Linked DNA regions of Homo sapiens: region 1 is linked to region 2. The links come from fine-mapping of genetic effects on gene expression. Tissue or cell type: adrenal gland. Region 2 holds a variant in brackets; the other region holds the start of a gene. All regions are shown on one strand. Distances are from middle to middle.

What was found. PIP is the estimated chance that this variant, and not a neighbour inherited with it, causes the effect. A credible set is the group of variants that fine-mapping cannot tell apart.
Region 1: TSKU-AS1 starts here. The variant in region 2 is the best candidate, but not a certain one, in a credible set for the expression of TSKU-AS1 in adrenal gland (GTEx, PIP 0.69).

What each region holds. Positions count from the first base shown.
Region 1 is chr11:76,780,685-76,785,062 of GRCh38, reverse strand. TSKU-AS1 (TSKU antisense RNA 1) reads left to right here and starts at 2,001. Exons shown (of 2, transcript NR_120562.1): 1 at 2,001-2,060; 2 at 2,207-2,482. It overlaps TSKU (tsukushi, small leucine rich proteoglycan), which reads right to left and starts at 1,707. Exons shown (of 2, transcript NM_015516.4): 1 at 1,659-1,707. RefSeq lists a silencer at 1,761-1,850 and enhancers at 1,402-2,046, 2,281-2,470.
Region 2 is chr11:76,709,839-76,714,216 of GRCh38, reverse strand. It overlaps the pseudogene GUCY2EP. Among named protein-coding and RNA genes, the nearest start is that of LRRC32, 41 kb to the right of the region's middle. RefSeq lists an enhancer at 3,603-4,104. The variant ATGTTCATTATTT/T (reference allele first, on the strand shown) is at 2,293.

The DNA.
Region 1 (4,378 bases), 71 kb before region 2:
CAGAATGGAGGTGTAGGTTAAACATCAAAGTGTTTCTGGGTTCTGGGATCTGAAGCAGTCAGCCAGAACAGAAGAGGCTATCAATACCTCCCCTTCCAGAAGGGAAACTGAGGCCGGAGAGGGAAAGGAAAATGCCCACAGTTGTTTCTTTCCCAGGTTAGCGGCCTGTGCCCTTCCATCATGTCTGCAGCATCCGACAAAGTTCTAGGTTAAAGACTGGAGTGAGCAGTGGGGAGGAGGGTGTTTACGGTTATCTTTGCGACTTAGGCTCAAAAGCCCAGCAGGCTCCTGCAGCTCTGAGCACCCCCCCCCCCCCACCTCCGGTCAGCCCCAGGCACTGCAAGTCTAGACTTATCCGAAGGGCAGGGCGCACAAAGATGAAAGAAGAATCGAAGGTCTTGAGTCACCTCCTCGCCAGGCCAAGTGTGGGCTGGCGCTGCTCTCCGCCCGGCTCCAGAGGCGCGGGTTATTCCCACCGCACGCCCCGAGCCGCGAGGGAGTTCTCGCCCTGTCCGTGCCAGAGTGACCGCGACTCCGCGAAGCTGAGCAACTTGCCAGCGCCGCACAGGGGCCAGTGGCCGTCCCAGTTGAAACCTGTGTATGTGAGGCTCCCACGGCCCCCAGCCCAGCTCCGGGTCCTGTGAGCCGGCGCCTCGGGCATGCCCAGATCTGGACTGGCAGTCCCCCTCTCCCCTACCGGGTCCGAGGGTTGGCCCCCTACCCCGGGGGCGGGCTGCAAACGGAGAGTGGGTCTCAAAGCGGAGCCTGTCTCCCTACCAAACAGACGCAACTCTGGATCACACTCTTTCCAAGAAGCGCGGGGAGGGCAACGCCAGCCGCCCTGTCCCTTCCTCTCCCCAGCCCAGGGCCGGAGCCTGGGACCCACCGCTCGCCTCTTCCTCCCAGCCGGGGTCTGAGGGGGAGTCCGCACGCTCCGCCCAGCCCCTGCCCAGCCAGTCCCCAGGCGCTGCCGATCCCCCGACCACCAATCCCGTCGCAGCCCCTTGCTGTCCTGGGACCTCAGGAGGGGGAGGGGGAGGGCTGTCTGCGCCCCCGGCCGGGTAGCGGTGGGGAGGACTGGGGCTGTTGCCCGAGGAACCGGGAGAAAAGTTTGGAGCCAAGTCGTGGGCCCGAGGGGACGGCGGGGGAGCGGGGGGGTGGGGCGGCGTTGGGCTCTCGGTGCGCACACCCTCTGCGGACACCCAGCCCAGACACGTCGGCAGGCACCGACCACGTACGCGGAGACACGCGATGCGCCCACCGACGCCCACAGCCAAGCGCAGGCCCGCAAACGTGGACACGGGCGCAAAGCAGCCGCGCAAAGCCACGGACACACAAAGGCACCGACAGCGGCGCGTCCCCGACCGCAAATCCACAAAGACCCACAAACGTGAGATGCACGTGTCCGCACAAAGACCCACACGGCCCCTGGGCGTAGCCTTTGTCTCCCGCAAGACCTCTCCCCTGGGTCGGCGTTCCCCACTCCCGCCCAGCCCTAGGCGTCCGACGAAAGTTGAGGGGCCTCGGCGGGACCCAGCCCCGCCCCTGCGCCCGGCGTCCCCAGCCCGCCCTCCGAAGGGGCCGCGAGGCTAGGATCGGGGACTTGGGATCTTCAACCGCAGCGCGGACTCTCGCCCCGCCCGGGGAACTGCACTCACCTGGAAGCCTGCGCCACAGCCGCCTCGGCACGCTCACCCCGGCGGCCCGGCCGCGGGCCCTCCGGCCAGCGCTTTTCTCCGCGCGGCGCGGCCCGCCCCCCGGTCCCCGCCCGCAGCCAGGCTCCCCCCTGCCGGGCGCCGGGTGGCGGCTCGGGCCGGCCGCGGGGCGGCTCAGGGAGTGTCGCCAAAGTGCCAGCCTCTCTCGGCGCGCGCCCCGCCCGCGGAGCCTGAGCCGAGCCCGGGTTCCACTCTAGGGAGCGTCTCAAAAGTGCGCTGCTCCCGCCCCCTCTAGTTGGCCTCGCTCACAGCTTCCTGCATCCCGGATCCCTGCCCCCTCCCCCTGCGCGCCCCAGCAATCTAAGCAGATGGCCGCACTGTCGGGAACATCTGGAGGTCGCCGGAGTACGTGCCTGTGTATGTGTATGTGTGTGTATGACTGTGTGTGTGGAAAGAGAGAGGGAATTAGTTGCTAGTAAGAAAGAGATTTGGTGGGTGGGTGAGGGCTTCCTCTTTGCTTGTTCACCGCCCCTCCCCATTTTTTTTTAAAGAGTGAAAGAGGTTCAGGGACTACCGGGAGCAAGAAACCAAGAATCTGAAGCAGAGAAAGACTGGCTGAAAGACGAACCCACAGAGAAGAGAGAGCCCGGCTCGGGCAGAAAAGCTGGCAGGAGAGGAGAGAGAAAGTCAACAGATTGAGTTTTTCTTTTAGGAGGAAACCATTGGCTTCTGGTTAGAGTTCTAAGAAGGGAAACTGGCGTGTGAGTAGGCAGCAGTTTCAGTCTATTCCCCCTGCTGTAGCTCTTGGGCTCTCACCCCTCTTTATGTTAAAAAAAAAAAAAAAGGGCAGGAAAGCATCCAAGACACTTTAAAATGAGGGTTTGCAGGAGAAATGACCTGGTGGACGCATTTCCTAGGAGGGGAGAGTCAGGTGTGTGGGTGGCTCCCAGTCTACACACCCCGACAATGCCTACCTTGGGAGAGGGGCAGTTCACAGGTGGGAGAGTTGATAGAGGCTTTGGTCTTGGGCCCTGGACCTCCCAGGAGCTTCTCCTAGACTTTGGAGGGCCTCGGGGTGCAGAAATTGGGCAATGTACCTCCTGCAGTGGCCCAGACTTGTTAACACACCCAGTCTGCTTGCTGCTTCTTTCCTTATTACTTTTTCTTATTCATTAAAAAAAAAAAAAAAAAAAGGAGTTGCTTGGGCCTGTGTGTGCATGCATGCCGGTCTACTTGGGGAAGAAGGAAGACACTAGAGAGGTGGTGAGGTAGGAGTGGAGACCACTGCCCCAGGCCTCAGGCCAGCAAAATCATCTGCTGCCCAGAAAACAAACTGGTCTTGCAGGTCCTTTCTGCACTCAGAGCCATTGTGTGGTCTTGGGGATGCACTTGGGTTGACACCTGTGGACCCTGCCAGTTAGGAATGTGCAGAGAAAAGGCTAGGAGCCTGGTCTCATATGTGTGGAAGCAGGGAGAACTCCCGTCTCTCCTCTCCATTCATTGTCCTCTCCTGATTAGAATCCCAGCTTTCAGAACTAGGAGTCCTTCTGTGATCATCCAGCTCACACTCCTTATCAGTCTTTGGGATGGCACCATGGGCCCTTTGGTATCCAGTGTCTTCCTCACTGTTGGGCTTAAAAGGGCTGCAGGGATTCAACTCCACAACCCCTGGGACCCATAGAGAGGAGTCGGGCCCCTCCCATTTCCCACCCTCCCATTCCCTCCCCTCTCTAAAGGCTCCTGGCCTAGATGGGAGAGAGACCTGCAATCAGCATCGGGTGAGGGCCAAGCTTGGTCAGGATTCAGGTTCCAGCCCTGCCACTTACCAGCTCTGGGTAACTTTAGGCAAGTTACCTAACCTCTCTGAGACTCAGTGTCTGCAACTGTAGAAGAGGCTATTGTGAGGAATAAACAAGGTAATTTAGGTAAAGCATTAGTCTGGCTCACAGGAAGCTCCTTTGTGTGGTTGCTAAATGTCTTCCGTCAGGGACTGGGGTAGAGACTGGAAAGCCCAGCAGGCTTGGGAGGGGAGGGTGCCCGGGAATGACCTCTGGACTCCCTGGCTTGTCTAGCTTATATTCCTCCTGCTTCCTCCCCTCCCATAGGGACATTCTTTTGAAGGAATGGCGCCCCCCTCCCCTTGCCCTAGACTAACGATTTCCATCCTCTCCTCCATGTGGAATTGTTTAGCGAGTCTCAAGTTCAGCATCTGAGAACTGGAGATGAAAATACCCAACTGCCCGGGAACTCAGGGAAGCTAACTCCCACTGCACTGTGTGTGCAGGTTCTAGCCAGCTGGGCTGGAGGCTCCAGGCCTCACATTTAACATAAAAGTAATCAACAACCCTTCACACTGGCTGGTAGCTGGCAGCAGTTTCTGAGCACTTTCACATTCATCATTTCCCTTGACCTCCCCTTAGGGAGAGGTGGCCTTGAGGGGCTTCAGCTGGTGGATCTCCATGAACTTTACCCACCTCCCCTCATCACTGTGCCTCCAGTTGAGAGTCTCTGTGCCTCTAGACTCTCCTCTTCTGTCTGCTGTCCACATTCCAGCAAGAGTGCCCTTTCTAAACTGCAGATCTGCAGAATGGATCATGACACTTGCCTGCTTAAAACCTTTCAATGGCAAAAGCCAAACTGCTTGGTGTGGCATTCAAGGCCTATGTGATATGCCCCCACCTCACCTTAACTCTCCAGCATCAGTTCTGGCCACCCCCTCTTAC
Region 2 (4,378 bases):
ATCACCACAGTCTGAAATAAAGTTCAGAAGGATTAAGTGACTGGAAGTTAAGTTAGGCATTTCCCAGTGGGCATCTTGCAACTATGTGAGTAGATTTTTTTTTTTTTTTTTTTTTGAGACAGGGTCTCGCTCTTTCACCCAGGCTGGAGTGCAGTGGCTGAATCTCAGCTCACTACAACCTCCGGCTCCCGGGCTCAAGCGGTCCTCCCACCTCAGCCTCCCAAGTAGCTGGGATTACGGGTGTGCACCACCACACCCAGCTAATTTTTGTATTTTTAGTAGAGACAGGGTTTCACCATGTTGGCCAGGCTGATCTAGAACTCCTGGCTTCAAGTGATCTGCCATTTATCCACCTATTGACTCATTCACCCATTCACCACCCACCCACCAACCACCCATCTACTCACCCATCCATCCATCCACCCATTCATCCACCCACCCATCCACCCGTTCATCCACCCACCCATCCACCCATCCATCTGCCCACCCACTCACCAACCATGCAAACACCCATCCACCAACCACCCATCCACCTACCCAACAACTCACCCACCCACCAACCACCCATCCACCCACTGACCAATCGCCCACCAACCCATCCATCCACCCAGCCACCCACCCATTCACTCATCCATCCATCCACCCACCCATCTACCCACCAGCCCACCAAGTACCCACTCACCCACCCATTCACCCATCATCCATCCACCCTCCCACCCATCAACCACTCACCCACCCATCTACCTGCCTACCCACCAGCTCCCCACCCACCCATCCATCTATTTATCCATCTACCACCCACCACCATCTATCCATGCATACATTCATCCATCCATCCTCCATCCATCCCTCACCACCCACCCATTCATCCATCTGTCTGTTTTTCCATCCATTCATTCAACATTTCTGATGCCTCTCCATGCTTAGCCTTGTGCTTGGTGCTAAGAGCAGGTGGCCTAGATGTGGATTGCACCTGGTCCAGCCCTCGAACGGCCCCTGAGGGCTGCTAAGGTGCCAATTTCCCTGACAGATGCGGGAGCTGCGGTGTGAGAACGTCGCCACCTGCCTGGGCATTTTCGTGATCTCTGGGGAACCTGCTTCGGAAAGAGGTCCTGCACCTAGACTGGACCTTCAAGGCCTCCCTGCTGCTGGATTTGATCTGCATGAGATCCCTCCCTGGGCCTGGCACTGCAGGGAAGTGGGGATGGCAGGGAGACAGGAGATGCTCAGATTTCCCACAGCTGGGCTCTTTCAGCTTTGTCTAATCCAGGGATATCCAAACTGCATGGCCACGGGTACAGGGAGGCAGGAAGGCTTTCTGGGGCTTGTGGGAATTCCGAGAGAACCAGGTTTCCTCTCATTCGTTACAGATCCAATGGACCCCCATTATGTCCATCTCAGGGCATGAGGTATCTGCACCACCACCATTTCCCTCCTGGCTGCCTCAAGTTCCAAAACTGTGTGGTGGACAGATGCTTTGTGCTCAAGGTCACTGACCATGGTTATGCAGAGCCCCTGGACACTTAGCAGGATCCCCAACCCTGGCCAGCCCCAGAAGGTCAGCTCAGGGATAGGCAGGGGGCTGCCAGTAGGTTTGGGGGCCTCTGTTTAACCAGGTGCTTGTAAGGTGCAGGGAGAGGGAGATCTCCAGTCCTCTGGTATTGGTGACCTTGAGTTGATCGCTTCTCCTCTCTGAACAAGCTGTAGGCTCTTTACCTGTGAATTGGGGAGAATACATGCACCCAGCCTGGCTTGGGTGGTCAGCAGGTAATGGTGGCATGGCCCTGCCCTATGATTGCAGAGCTGCTATGGACAGCTCCTGAGCTGCTGCCGGGGCCTGGGCGCCCTGGGCGGCGCACCCTCACAGGGGACATCTTCAGCACTGGCATCATCCTGCAGGAGGTGCTGACTCGGGCCCACTCTACTGCTCCTCGGGACTTCCAGTGGAAGGTAGGTATCCTCCTCCCCTTTCTTGGCTGTCCCTGGCTAGAGTCTCTGCCTAGTGGGAAATTCTATGGCAATCAGGAAATCTGGGCCTGAAGACCACATAGACACACACACCTAAAGTCTGACCATGAGAACTTGACTTAAACCGGGCAGCCTTTTAAGGGGTGGCCTGCCCCTCCACACCTGTGGGTATTTCTAGTTGGGTGGGACGAGAGACTGAGAAAGAGATAAAACACAGAGACAAAGTATAGAGAAACAATAGTGGGCCCAGGGGACCGGCGATCAGCATACCAAGGACCTGCACCGGCACCGGTCTCTGAGTTCCCTCAGTTTTTATTGATTATT[ATGTTCATTATTT/T]CAGCAAAAAGGAATGTAGTAGGAGGGCAGGGTGATAATAAGGAGAAGGTCAGCAACAAACATGTGAGCAATGGAATCTATGTCATAATGAAGTTCAAGGGAAGGTACTATGACTGGACATGCACGTAAGCCAGATTTATGTTTCTCTCCACCCAAACATCTCAGTGGAGTAAAGAATAACAAGGCAGCATTACTGCAAACATGTCTCACCTCCCACCATAGGGCGGTTTTTCTCTCATCTCAGAATTGAACAAAGGTACAATCGGGTTTTATACCAAGACATTCAGTTCCCAGAGGCAGGCAGGAGACAGTGGCCTTCCTCTATCTCAACTGCAAGAGGCTTTCCTCTTACTAATCCACCTCAGCACAGACCCTTTACGGATGTCGGGCTGGGGGACGGTCAGGTCTTTCTCATCCCATGAGGCCATATTTCAGACTATCACATGGGGAGAAACCTTGGACAGTACCCAGCTTTCCAGGGCAGAGGTCCCTGCAGCTTTCCGCAGTGCATTGTGCCCCTGGTTTATTGAGACTAGAGAATGGCGATGACTTTTACCAAGTATACTGCTTGTAAACATTTTGTTAACAAGGCACGTCCTGCACAGGCCTAGATCACTTAAACCTTGATTTCATACAACACATGTTTTTGTGAGCTCCAGGTTGGGTCAAAGTGGTTGGGTCAAAGTGGCTGGGGCAAAGCTACAAATTAACAACATCTCAGCAAAGAAATTATTTAAAGTACAGGTCTTTTTCCAAATGGAGTCTCTTATGTCTTCCCTTTCTACATAGACACAGTAACAGTCTGATTTCTCTTTCTTTTCCCTACAGCCTTCAGCAACTCTGCCAGAATAGCAGCTGACCCACTCCAGGGGCTAAGGACGTTGTGCTCTGGGTGAAAATCCCCGCCCCTGCCTTCCTCCCCAGTGTCACTGCCATGCCTGTAGGTGCTCATGCCCCGCCTGCACCTGCCCTCCATGCCCAGCACAGGCTACACAGAGCTCAGCCCTACTCCAGCTGTGTCACTGTCTTACTCTGTGACCTTACACAAACCGCTTACCCTCTCTGAGCCTCAGTGTTGTCATCTATAAATGGGAATCCAGTAACCAATGTGCCAGATCCCCAGCCCCTTGGCCAACGTGGCCAGGCTGCTCAATACCACGGGGCTTCGTTACCTGCCCAGGCAGGCTCCTTCAGAGCATCTCTGTCCTCACACTTCTGGCTCCCCAGGATAATCACTTGCAGCTTCCCCATCGTCACCTGGCCTGTACACACTTTCTCTCTTCCAGCCCCAGTGCCAAGGCCCAACTCCAAAAATGTTTCCTCCCCTCTGTGCTCTCTGTCTGGCTCCCTGGACCCCAGACTTCTCTTTCTGTCATCCTCCTGCTGCCTCTTCCCAGTCCCAGGGACCTGGCCCTCCACAGACACCTGGCACCTCGGCCCACAGTGCAGAGCAGTGACGGTGCCGAGCTCACCATCAGCTCCCACCCCAGTGGATAATCTTTAATTCACAGGAGACCCAGCCCCACTGCCTTTCTCCACCACAGCCCTGTGAATAATGAGCATTCCAGGCCCAAATTTATGAGGTGGAGGAGTGGGAAGAAGGGGGGCCTTATAAGACCATTTGTTCAACACTCCTCGGCTGCCTCCCCATCATCTGCCTCTGAGGAGGGAAGGACTGGCCAGATGGGATCTGCAAGCCATGCCACCAGTGCAAGGCGCTCCAGGCCTGGCTCCATCCAGCTTTGGGTGCAGGGACCCAGGTCTGGAATGCTCTGGCCACCCTTGAGGAGGCTGTCAGCCTAGGGCCCACTGCTTCCTGCTGTGTGCTTTCCTAGGCCTCAGGGAGTACAGGGCTCACGCCACAGGCTCCAGGGAACACCATCCTAAGCCCAGCTCCACACCAACATGCCTCGTGACTTTGAGTAAATCCCTTTTAGGCTCCAAGCCTCAGTGTTCTCATCTGTAAAATGGGAACCATGATGTCTGCCTTCCAGCGCAGCTGTGAGGATTCAGTGAAATGCTGTAGACAGAGGGCCTGGCATGCAGTGGGTCCTCAATAAATATCTGCAGGGTG